3 linked regions of the Homo sapiens genome follow. The protein of the gene in region 2 interacts with the protein of the main gene of each other region in a pairwise test. Each region holds a gene or a part of one and is shown on either strand. Other genes may lie near its edges.

What was found.
Region 1: the proteins of PAM16 (region 2) and DNAJC15 interact in binary tests that used the Homo sapiens proteins (3 or more experiments, as listed by UniProt).
Region 3: the proteins of PAM16 (region 2) and FEZ1 interact in a two-hybrid assay, tested with the Homo sapiens proteins (2 studies listed by BioGRID and IntAct).

The regions. Positions count from the first base shown.
Region 1 is NC_000013.11:43,021,472-43,025,221, forward strand, and holds the start of DNAJC15 (dnaJ homolog subfamily C member 15), read left to right. Parts: upstream 1-2,114; 5' UTR 2,115-2,155; coding exon 2,156-2,263; intron 2,264-3,750. UniProt on the Homo sapiens protein: Negative regulator of the mitochondrial respiratory chain. Prevents mitochondrial hyperpolarization state and restricts mitochondrial generation of ATP. Acts as an import component of the TIM23 translocase complex. Stimulates the ATPase activity of HSPA9.
Region 2 is NC_000016.10:4,349,772-4,353,521, forward strand, and holds the start of PAM16 (mitochondrial import inner membrane translocase subunit TIM16), read right to left. Parts: upstream 1,551-3,750; 5' UTR 1,464-1,550; coding exon 1,461-1,463; intron 1-1,460. UniProt on the Homo sapiens protein: Regulates ATP-dependent protein translocation into the mitochondrial matrix. Inhibits DNAJC19 stimulation of HSPA9/Mortalin ATPase activity.
Region 3 is NC_000011.10:125,489,610-125,493,359, reverse strand, and holds part of FEZ1 (fasciculation and elongation protein zeta-1), read left to right. Parts: intron 1-3,537; 5' UTR 3,538-3,582; coding exon 3,583-3,750. UniProt on the Homo sapiens protein: May be involved in axonal outgrowth as component of the network of molecules that regulate cellular morphology and axon guidance machinery.

The sequences.
Region 1 (3,750 bases), on a different chromosome or scaffold from region 2:
CCCACCACGCCCAGCTAATTTTTGTATTTTTAGTAGAGATGGGATTTCACCATGTTGGCCAGGATGGTCTCACTCTCTTGACCTCATGATGCACCCACCTTCGGCCTCCCAAAGTGCTGGGATTACAGGCATGAGCCACCGCGCCCAGCTGGGGATCAGAATTTTTAAGGACAACTCGGTGAGTAGGGGGAAGCCAGTGAGCTGGGAGTGCTGATTGGTCAGGTCAAAGATGAAATCACAGGGAGTCCAAGTTGTCTTGCGTTATCAGTTCCTGGGTGGGGGCCACGAGATCAGATGAGCCAGTTTATCGATCTGGGTGATGCCAGCTGATTCATCAAGTGCGGGGTCTGCAAAATATCTCAAGCACTGGTGGTAGTTTTTACAATAGTGATGTTAGCTCCAGCAGCAATTTGGGGAGGGTCAGAATCTTGTAGCCTCCAGCTGCATGACTCCTAAGTCATAATTTCTGATCTTGTGGCTAATTTGTTAGTCCTACAAAGGCAGTCTAGTCCCCAGGCAAGAAGGAGGTTTGTTTTGGGAAAGGGCTTTTATCATCTTTGTTTCAAACTATAAACTATGAATTACATTCCTCCCAAAGTTAGTTTGGCCTACGGCCAGGAATGTACAAGACAGCTTGGAGGTTAGAAGCAAGATGGTGTTGATTAGGTCAGATCTCTTTCTCAGTTGTAATTTTGCAATGGCGGTTTAATTCCCAGTCCAGTTCTCTTTATACTGCTATGCAATGCATGTGCTCATGTTCTGGTATGTACTATTATTCTGTGTCAGTGTTATCTTCCCTACAAGATTGTAAATTTCTAGGACCTAACTTCTTAGACATGCTAATAATATTAACTAAGTGAACAAATTAATAGACCCTCAAAACTTTAAATTCAGGAATAGAAAAAAAATAAAGCTTTTTCTTCCTGTCAGCTGATTTTGCAAAGGGTATAAGGAGCCAAAGAGCTGCCACGTTGGTACAGAAGTTGGAAAACACCATACGCTTCAACTGCTGGTTAATTTTTGCTCTAAAAACTTGATGGAGGCCAGGCGCGGTGACTCACGCCTGTAATCTCAGCACTTTGGGAGGCTGAAGCGGGCGGATCACCTGAGGTCAGGAGTTTGAGACCAGCCTGGCCAACATGGTGAAACCTCGTCTCTACTAAAAATACACAAATTAGCCAGGTGTGGTGGCACGTGCCTTTAATCCCAGGTACTCGGGAGGCAGAGGGTGCAGTGAGCCAGAGATTGCGCCACTGCACTCAGCCTGGGCAACAGAGCGAGACTCCATCTCAAAAAAAAAAAAAAGCTTAATAATAAAATGGGCTTTTATATATACAAATCAGCACAAACTCATTTGAGGGAGAGTAAGATTTACCTACTTGCTCACAACTTTTTTTCCCCTGCCTCAGGCTCCTGAGTAGCTGGGATTACAGGGACGCACCACCACACCCAGCTAATCTTTGTATTTTTAGTAGAGACGAGGTTTCACCATGTCGGCCAAGCTGGTGTGATCCACCCGCCTCGGTCTCCCAAAGTGCTGGGATTACAGCGTGAGCCACCGCACCCGGCCACAACTTTCTTCTGTGTAATTTCACCTTAAATACAGCCATTTACTTGGGGGTGGAGTAAGCAAATTGCCTCTTTAATTTCTCTCCCGGGGTGGTAGAACTGTGGCATTAAACAGAAGTGCGAACAGAAGTTGAGAGTGGGAAGAAAGGCTGCCCGGAAGGGGGTCAGGAAAGCTCAGGCAAGCCCACCCTCAGGCACTACAGCTAGACTCCGAGCTTACTGGGCAGTCATCTGATTCGACCAACATCAGTTCGCAGGGCTTAAGCCCAGTCCCTTACGGCGGCCTGGGGAGGGACCAGGCCCAAGTATATAAAGCTCCCTGAGGGTCCGCGTTGGCTTTGCGCCTGTGAGTGTGATTCAAGAACGTCCCAGTGCCCTTGGCTCCTTTCGGAGTGTGACCCCGTGCTTGCACGGGACACGTTACCCAGCTCGGGTGAGAAGGGTATCTTCCGGGAACCTCGCCTTTAATAGCACAACGAGCGCAGAGTCCACTGGATCTGCGAGAAGAAACCGCGCTAACTAGTTTGTCCCTACGGCCGCCTCGTAGTCACTGCCGCGGCGCCTTGAGTCTCCGGGCCGCCTTGCCATGGCTGCCCGTGGTGTCATCGCTCCAGTTGGCGAGAGTTTGCGCTACGCTGAGTACTTGCAGCCCTCGGCCAAACGGCCAGACGCCGACGTCGACCAGCAGAGACTGGTGAGTCCTGCCAGCGGCCCCCACCCCTCTCTGGCTCCCTTGTAGTTTCTGCTTCAGCCCCCTCTACCGCCTCACCCTTGAACCTTTGTACTCCCCCGCATTCGCTCACGGTCTGTGCCCTAGCGCTCACTTGTTCAGTGGAGAGACCGCTTTGTGCTGGGCTTTGACGCCTGGGCGTGGAAGACGGAGCAGTTCTGAGGATCTGTCTCCTCAAGGAGCTTCCAGTCTTGTCTGGGACACAAACCAGAAAACAGGCAATTGCAAATACAGTAAAATAAGTGCTGTATGTGGATTTTCCTATCTCATAGGAGGCCCTAAAAACGTCTTGCAGGGGACGTGGTGGGATCAGGGACGCTTCTTGGAGAAAGCTGTAGTTAAAAATTAAGATCTGAATGAATAAAAACAGTCCATTCAGCAAGGAGAAGGGGAAAAAGTGTTTCGGGTACCAGGACTACTGTCTCCAAAGTCTCCGGCACAGAAACAGGGCCCAGTTGGAAACTCCAAGTGGTGTATTCAGGATGAACTGTAGAGCTGGAAAAAGGAAGGGTCTAACAGAAAACTGTCCAACAGAAGCATATTGTGAGCCACATACGTATTTTTACGTTTTTTTTTTTTTTTTTTTTTTTTGAGACGGAGTCTCGCTCTGTCGCCCAGGCTGGAGTGCAGTGGCGCGATCTCGGCTCACTGCAAGCTCCGCCTCCCGGTTTCAGGCCATTCTCCTGCCTCAGCCTCCCAAGTAGCTGGGACTACAGGCGCCTGCCACCACTCCCGGCTAATTTTTTGTATTTTTAGTAGAGACGGGGGTTTCACCGTGTTAGCCAGGATGGTCTCGATCTGCTTACCTCGTGATCCGCCCGCCTCGGCCTCCCAAAGTGCTGGGATTACAGGCGTGAGCCACCGCGTCCGGCATATTTTTAAGTTTTTTGTAGCCATATTAAACAACTGAAGAGAAACAGGTGGGTTTGATTTTAACCATGTATTTTCTTTAACCTGATATATGCACAGTTGCATGGTAATTTTCAACATTCAATATGAAATATTGCCCAAGTGGTGGTTTAGGCTTGTAATCCCAGCGCTTTAGGAAGCCCAGGCAGGAGGATCACTTGAGGCCATGAGTTTGGAGGACAGCCTGGGCAACACAGGAGACCCCATCTCTGCTAAAAAAAAAAAAAAAAAATTAGCTGGGTGTGGTGGTGTGAGCCTGTAGTCCTAGCTGCTTGGGAGGCTGGGTCGGGAGAATCACTTGAGCCCAGGAGTTGAGGTTATAGTGAGCTATGATTTCGCCACTGCACTCCAGCCTGAGAGACAGAGCTAGACCCTGTCTCCAACAAAGAAAAAAAAATGAGGCAGTAGAGATTTAGAAAGTTTTAAGTAACTGGTCCAGGATCATCCCTGGTAAGTGGCAGATCTACGATTCCAAATGCTACACTTTTTCCCTTATGACTTGCTGACTCCTTAGAAATAAGGATTTCTGGATATAGTATTCA
Region 2 (3,750 bases):
ACAAACCAAAAAAACCCCATGAGTTTTGGGACAGAGCTGGGCTCAAAAGAGGTCTCTGACACCATGGGATGCATGACTATGGTGGAGTCAAAACTGTCTGGGGCTCAGGTTCCTTATCTGTAAAATAAGGACAATGACAGCAGGACTTCATAAACACTAAATGAGAGACTCTACATAAAGCCTTAGCTCAGGGGCTGGCACTTGTACGCCGTTAGCTGTTACATTATCCTTATTACTATGTTAGTTAAGAAGTGGCTCCCCGAACCAGCTGCAACAGAGTCACTTGGGGAACTTACGTGTGCAGAACCTCCAGGGATAGAGCTCAAGAACCTGAACTTTTTTTTTCCCCCTCTTTTTCTTTTTGAGAGAGTTTTGCCCTGTCGCCCAGACTGGAGTGCAGTGGCACAATCTTGGTTCACTGCAGCCTCTGCCTCCTGGGTTCAAGCGATACTGGCGCCTCAACTTCCCAAGCAGCTGGGATTACAGGTGTGTGCCACCATGCCTGGCTAACATATGTATATATTATGTGTGTGTGTGTGTATATATATATATAAAATACATGATATATAAAAATATATATAACATAATAATATGTAGTATACATAAATGTATACGGTATATATAATACATATATATAATTTTTTTTTTGAGACGCAGTCTCACCCTGTCGCCCAGGCTAGAGTGCACTGGCGGATCTCGGCTCATTGCAACCTCTGTCTCGCGGGTTCAAGCGTCTGTCCTGCCTCAGCCTCCCGGGTAGCTTGGACTACAGGCGCGCACCACCCCACCCGGCTAATTTTTTAAATTTTTTGGTGGAGACCGGGTTTCATCATGTTGGCCAGGCTGGTCTCGAACTCCTGACCTCGTGATCCGCCGCCTCGGCCTCCCAGAGTGCTGGGATTACAGGCGTGAGCCACCGCGCCCAGCCAAACCTGCACTTTTAAAGCTACCCTAGGTGACCTGACAGTGTGGCGCAGGTCTGTTGACTGGCTCTACGTGCCAACGATATCACACAAACGCTCCGTGCTCGGTGTCTCGGGGCCTAGTTCAAGTCCCAGGTCAGCCACTTCCCTGGAAAGGCCAGCTTTCCACTGGGGATAACAACAGGGCAGCAACATCGACTCTGCAGCGCTGTAAGGTTCCAGGGCAGGGGAGGCGCTCACCAGCCAGACTCATGCTCCACCGCTGCCCACGGCTGCTCGCTCACACGCGGGCTAGGCACAGCGCGACCACGTTTGCCCGGCCTCTTCCAGGCAGACGGTTTTCCCTGGCCCTGAGGCCGCCGGTGCCGCCGCTGCCGGCCTCGATTCCCCCGGGTGCAACGCCCCCAGACCATGCTTCCCGCCGGGCACGCAGGGGGCGCACGGCGCCCGCCGCCCAGCCCGGAGCTCGCCGCCCGGCCCCCGGCCCCCGGCCCGACTCGGCTTCCCCTCCCCGGTAGCGCCCGACTCGGGGCTCACCATGGCAGCCGCTCTGCCTCCGGGGCTCAAACTCCGACTTCCTGGCCCCGCGGCCGGGGATCAAGCGTGGTCGGCGGGTCAGAGGTCAAGGAAAGCCGCAGAGAGCGCGTGCGCGATACGGCGCTGGGCATGCGCATTGCCTCAGTCTAAGGGCGGGCCACCGGGAGCGTCTTAGCGGCTCGGGGCGGGGTCGGAGGCGGGGTTTGACTGAGCCTGCGTCGGGCTCTGGATAACTGGGGGCGGGCTTGGGAGGGCAAGGGGCGTTACCGGGAGTCTCAATTGCCCGCGTGCTTACCCCAGTGCGCTGGAGCAGCTAAGCACATCGGTCAGACGTGGGGCGATTTCTGCCCTTGATTTTGCCAAAATATTTGGGAATGCAACATTATATGAAATCAATGAACATAATATGGAGTAGGATGCTAAATTCTCAAAAATACTTTAGAAAATAGAAAACTTCAAAATAGGTTTCATCCACATTCCTCCTGCCTGAGAAGCTCGTTCCCTTCTTCAAATCTTTGCTCAAATGTCACCTCAATGAGGCCCACCTGGACCCCTTAAAACGCCGTGACTTGCCCTCCATGAATGAAAAAAGTAACAGCTTTATTGAGATATAATCCATACACTGTAGATTTCATGATTTTCAAGTGCACAGTCCAATGCCTTTTATTCACAGAGCTGTGCCACTGTCACCACTATTAGTTCCAGAACGTTTTCATCACCCATTAGTCACTCCCCAGCCCCCTCCCCCAGCCCCTGTCAACCACTCATTTTTCTCTCTATGGATTCACAGGTTCCGGACATTTCATAGAAATGGAATCATACAAGCCAGGCGTGGTGGCTCATGCCTGCAATCTCAAAACTTTGGGAGGCCGAGGTGGATCGCTTGAGGTCAGGAACTCAAGGCCAGGCTGGGCAACATGGTGAAACCCCATCTCTACAAATACAAAAATTAGCCGGGTGTGGTGGCAGGTGCCTGTAATCCCAGCTACTTGGGAGGCTGAGTGGTGGATCTCTTGAGCCCGGGAGGTACAGGCTGCAGTGAGCTGTGATCACTGCACTCCAGCCTGGGTGACAGAGTCAGGCCCTGCCTCAAAAAAAAAAAAAAAAAAAAAAAAGGTAAAAATGAAAAATGAAAAAAAAGAAGAAATTGAATCATACAATGTGCAGCCTTTTGTGACTGGCTTATCCTCCCTTCTTGTCTCTATTTTTCTTCCAAGACTCTGATCACCCTCTACCATACCACATAATTTACTTATTTATTTTATTTATCATTTTGAGACAGGGTCTCACCCTGTCGCCCAGGCTGGAGTCCAGTGGCACAATCCTGCCTCACTGCAACCTCCACCTCCCAGGTTCAGGCGATGCTCATGCTTTAGCCTCCTGAGTAGCTGGGATTACAGGCATGGACCACCATGCCCCATTAATTTTTGAATTTTTAGTAGAGACAGGGTTTCACCATGTTGGCCAGGCTGGTCTTGAACTACTGGTCTCAAATGATCCACCCGCCACAGCCTCCCAAAGTGCTGGGATTATAGGCATGTGACACTGTGCCCAACCGGTTTTTTATTTTTAAATTATTTTTCCTTTTTTTTTTTTTTTTGAGATGAAGTCTTGCTCTGTCACCCAGGCTGGAGAGCAGTGGCCCAATCTTGGCTCACTGCGATCTCCACCTCCTGGGTTCAAGTGATCCTCCCACTTCAGCCTCCGAAAGTGCTGGGATTACAGGTGTAAGCCACCGTGCCCAGCCAAAAAAAAATTTTTTTTTTTCAAGATAGGGTCTCACTCTGTTGCCCAGGCTGCAGTACAGTAGCATGATCATGGCTCACTGCAGTCTTGACCTTCCAGCCTTGAGTGATACTTTCACCTCAGCTTTCTGAGTAGCTGGGACCACAGGCATGTGCCAACACATGTGGTTAATGTTTGTTTTTTGTCTTTTTGAGAGCGTCTCCCTGTTGCCCAGCCTGGAGTGCAGTGGCATGACCTCGGCTCACTGCAACCTCTGCTTCCTGGGTTCAAGAGATTCTCTTGCCTCAGCCTCCTGAGTAGCTGGGACTACAGGCATGGGCCACCATGTCCGGCTAATTTTTTGTATTTTTAGTAAAGACGGGGTTTCACCGTGTTAGCCAGGATGGTCTCGTGCTCCTGACCTCGTGATCCGCCTGCCTTGGCCTCCCGAAGTGCTCGGATTACAGGCGTGAGCCACCGCGCCCAGCTAATGTTTGTATTCTTTGTAGAGACAAGGGTTCCCCTATGTTGCCCAGTCTGACCTCAAACTCCTGGGTTCAAGCAA
Region 3 (3,750 bases), on a different chromosome or scaffold from region 2:
CTCTTTCTTTCTTTCTTTCTTTCTTGAGATGGAGTTTCGCTCTTGTTGCCCAGGCTGGAGTGCAATGGCATGATCTCGGCTCACTGCAACCTCTGCCTCTTGGGCTCAAGCGATTCTCCTGCCTCAGCCTCCCAAGTAGCTGGGATTACAGGCACCTGCCACCATGCTCAGCTAATTTTTTTTTTTTGTATTTTTAGTAGAGACAGGGTTTTGCCATGTTGGCCAGGCTGGTCTTGAACTCCTGACCTCAGGTGATCCACGCACCTCAGCCTCCCAAAGTGCTGGGATTACAGGCATGAGCCACTGTGCCCAGCCCCCACATCACATTTCTATGTAAGTTAGCTATCCTGGTTTTCCTAGAATTATTTTTAACTTTTTTTTTTTTTTTTTTAAAGATAGGGTCTCACTTTGTCACCCAGGCTGGCATACAGTAGTGTGATCATAGCTCACTATAGCCTCAAACTCATGGGCTCAACCAATCCTCCTGCCTCAGCCTCTCCAGTTGCTGGGATTACAGGTGTGAGCCACCGTGCCCAGCTTTGATTTTTCTAGAATGATTGATATTTATTGGATGCTTTCTATATTCTGCACATTGTACTTAACACTTCAAAGATGATCTCATTTAGTCCAAAAAGTAATCTTCAAGGGAAGCACTGTTTTAAACTCCATTTTATAGATGATGAAATTGAGGCACAGTGAGGTTGATAACTTGCCCAAAGTCTCCCAACTAGGAGTGACAGGACCAGGACAGGAACCCAAAGCCTATGCTCTTAGCCATCACAGAGTACTGCCTTAATCAACACAAATCCCTGGGCTGTGAAAACTGTTTTACTCTCTACTGCATTCTGCCATCTTTTCTAATCTCACTTTTTTGTTGCTCAGGGATTCTTAATCTTTTTTGCACTATGACCTCCTTTGGTGGTATGGAGAAGCCTGTGGGCTCCTTCTCCAAATAATGTTTTTAAATGCATAAAATAAAATACTTAGTCTTGTAAAGGAAACCAATTTCATTGAAATATAGTTACCTTCAAAGAGCCTGCAGGGGTCTATGTACTGAAGATGAAGAACCCCTGACTGGCAATTACTTGTGTTTGCTTTAGAGCTGTGTTGTCCCTTGCGGTAGCCACAGGCCACATTTGACTGTTGAGCACTTGCAATGTGGCTAGTCCAAAGTGAGATGTACTGTAAATGGAAAATATACACTGGATTTCAAAGGGCTTAGTATAAAAAAAGAATAAAAACTGCCTCATTAGTTTTTTTGTGGATTACATTTTGAAATGGTAACACTTTGGATATATTGGATTAAATAAACATATTACTTCAATCAAAATGATTAATTAAATTATTGATTTATTAAAAATAACTCCTAAAGATGTTAACTCTGTACCAACACCTTCCTTATAACAAATGAGGAAATCAGGACCAATGATGCTTGTCACTCAGCCAGCCATTGGCAGATCTGTTGGCTCTCGAGCCTGTCTTCTTTCCAAGATATGGTACTACTTGTATATATTTTTGTATTCAAAGGTCCTATCATGTTGCCTTTGCAAACTGTAAATGCTCCAAATATGTTTTAAAGCAACGGTAATCAACTTAATCCCAGCAAAATCCCGGTACAAACTGGCAGTGTTCTTGCCTGGCATGTCCTTTGCCTTGCTTATTTAGAGTTTTAGTTTTGTAGGTAGAGATGGAGAATGGGCACTCCTAGGGCAAAATCCATGAATTTTGCTGTCTGGTTCCCCTCAGGAAGCGCCTCCAATTTGAGCACCTAACTATATCAATAACCCTATAGACCGAAGAGAAAAGCTTGGTAGCCTTTCTGTTGAGCGTGTAGAGAAGGGTATGATAGTCAGCAATGCTTGTGCTGCCTGAAACTGAAAATGGAAAACTGTATGTGGGAGATAGATCATTTTTTCAACGAGCACATATTGATTGACTGCCTAGCCACAGGGTAGGCAGTGTATATTTGGAGCCAGGGAAGATATCCAGAGGATTTCTGTGTCCTCGAGGAATTTAAGTTAAAATTGAATGGGGCCCAGATGTACACACAGATGGATAAATCACAGTTGGAAGCAGTGCATGAAGATGGCCCGATGAGGGGTAGAGGTCCCACAGTTGGTGGGAACTGAAGGGAGTTCTGTGTGTGCAGCGTTCCAGGGTGCAGTGCCCAAGATGGTTATGGAGTATGGCTTTGGAGCACATGGGTAGTTGGGTCTGTTTCTTACAGGATACAGGATAATAGATCATTTAGTCTATTCCTCTGCTCCTAGGCATATGCTCTATGTGTGGGAAAACCTTGGGTGCTTGTCTGGGCACGGTGGCTCATGCCTGTAATCCCAGAACTTTGGGAGGCTGAGGCAGGTAGATCACCTGAGGTCAGGAGTTCGAGACCAGCCTGGCCAACATGGTGAAACCCCATCTCTACTAATAATACAAAAATTAGCTGGGTGTGGTGGCACACGCAGCTACTTGGGAGGCCAAGGCATGAGGATTGGTGGAACCCAGAGGTGTAGGTTGCAGTGAGCTGAGATCACACCACTGCACTCCAGCCTGGGCCACAGAGTGAAGCTATGTCTCAAAAGCGAAACGAAACAAAAACAACTCAGGCATTTATTGGAAGGTCTCTATTGATGTTTTATTAGTTTTTTTAAAAAAATAAAAATAGAGATGGGACCTTACTATGTTGCCCAGGCTGGTCTTGAACTCCTGAGTGAGCTCAAATGATCCTCCCACCTCAACCTCCCAAAGTGCTGGGATTACAAGCATGAGCCACCACATCCAGCCAATGTTTTATTAGTTTCTACTATTTATTGATAAGGGTAGTAATATCTAGGTATACAAACCCTTATCCAAAACCCCTGGGGCCAGGCATTTGGAATTCAGATTATTTCAGATTTTGGAAAGTAGTAATAGAGTGTACATTCCGCATTTCATCCAGTGGGATCTGGGATAGCAATCTTTGTAATTAAAAAGTTAATATTTCTGCAGCAAAACACACAAAATGGGATAAATTAAAGCCATGAACAGCTTTATATTCATGTTGGTCATGTTTAGTTGCCAGATGAGTTTAGATCATGTCACATTTTGCTGCCAAACAAGTCATGGAGAATTTTCAGCTTTCAGATCACATAGTTAAGGATATGGATCTGTGGTAATAGTAATAGTAATAAAAATAATAATACTAAAACACCAACAGAAAGTATTCAATAATATTGGCACTTATTATCTTCCAGGTACTGTTTTAAGCACTCACCTGTGTTTACTCCTTTAGTCTTCTAACAGCCCTTTGAGGTGGGTTCAGTATTATATCTGTCTTGAGAAGAATAAGAAGCACAGAGCAATTAATCACTTGCCCAAGGTCACAGCTGGTAGGACAGAACAGAATGCAAACCTAGACGATCTTGTCCAGGAGCTTCGTACTTAACCAGTGCCTTGTTTTTTGGAGTAGGGAATTGGAAGCAGGTGTGTCTCTAAAGTTAACTCTATTATTTAGATTAGCCTGGTCTAAACTCACATTACGCTGTTCATTTCTTTTAGATAAACTCATCCTGAAAGTCGCTGTTGTTCTCCTGCTGAGCAAGAATGGAGGCCCCACTGGTGAGTCTGGATGAAGAGTTTGAGGACCTTCGACCCTCCTGCTCGGAGGACCCGGAGGAGAAGCCCCAGTGTTTCTATGGTTCATCTCCCCACCATCTCGAGGACCCCTCCCTCTCCGAGCTTGAGAATTTTTCTTCCGAAATAATCAGCTTC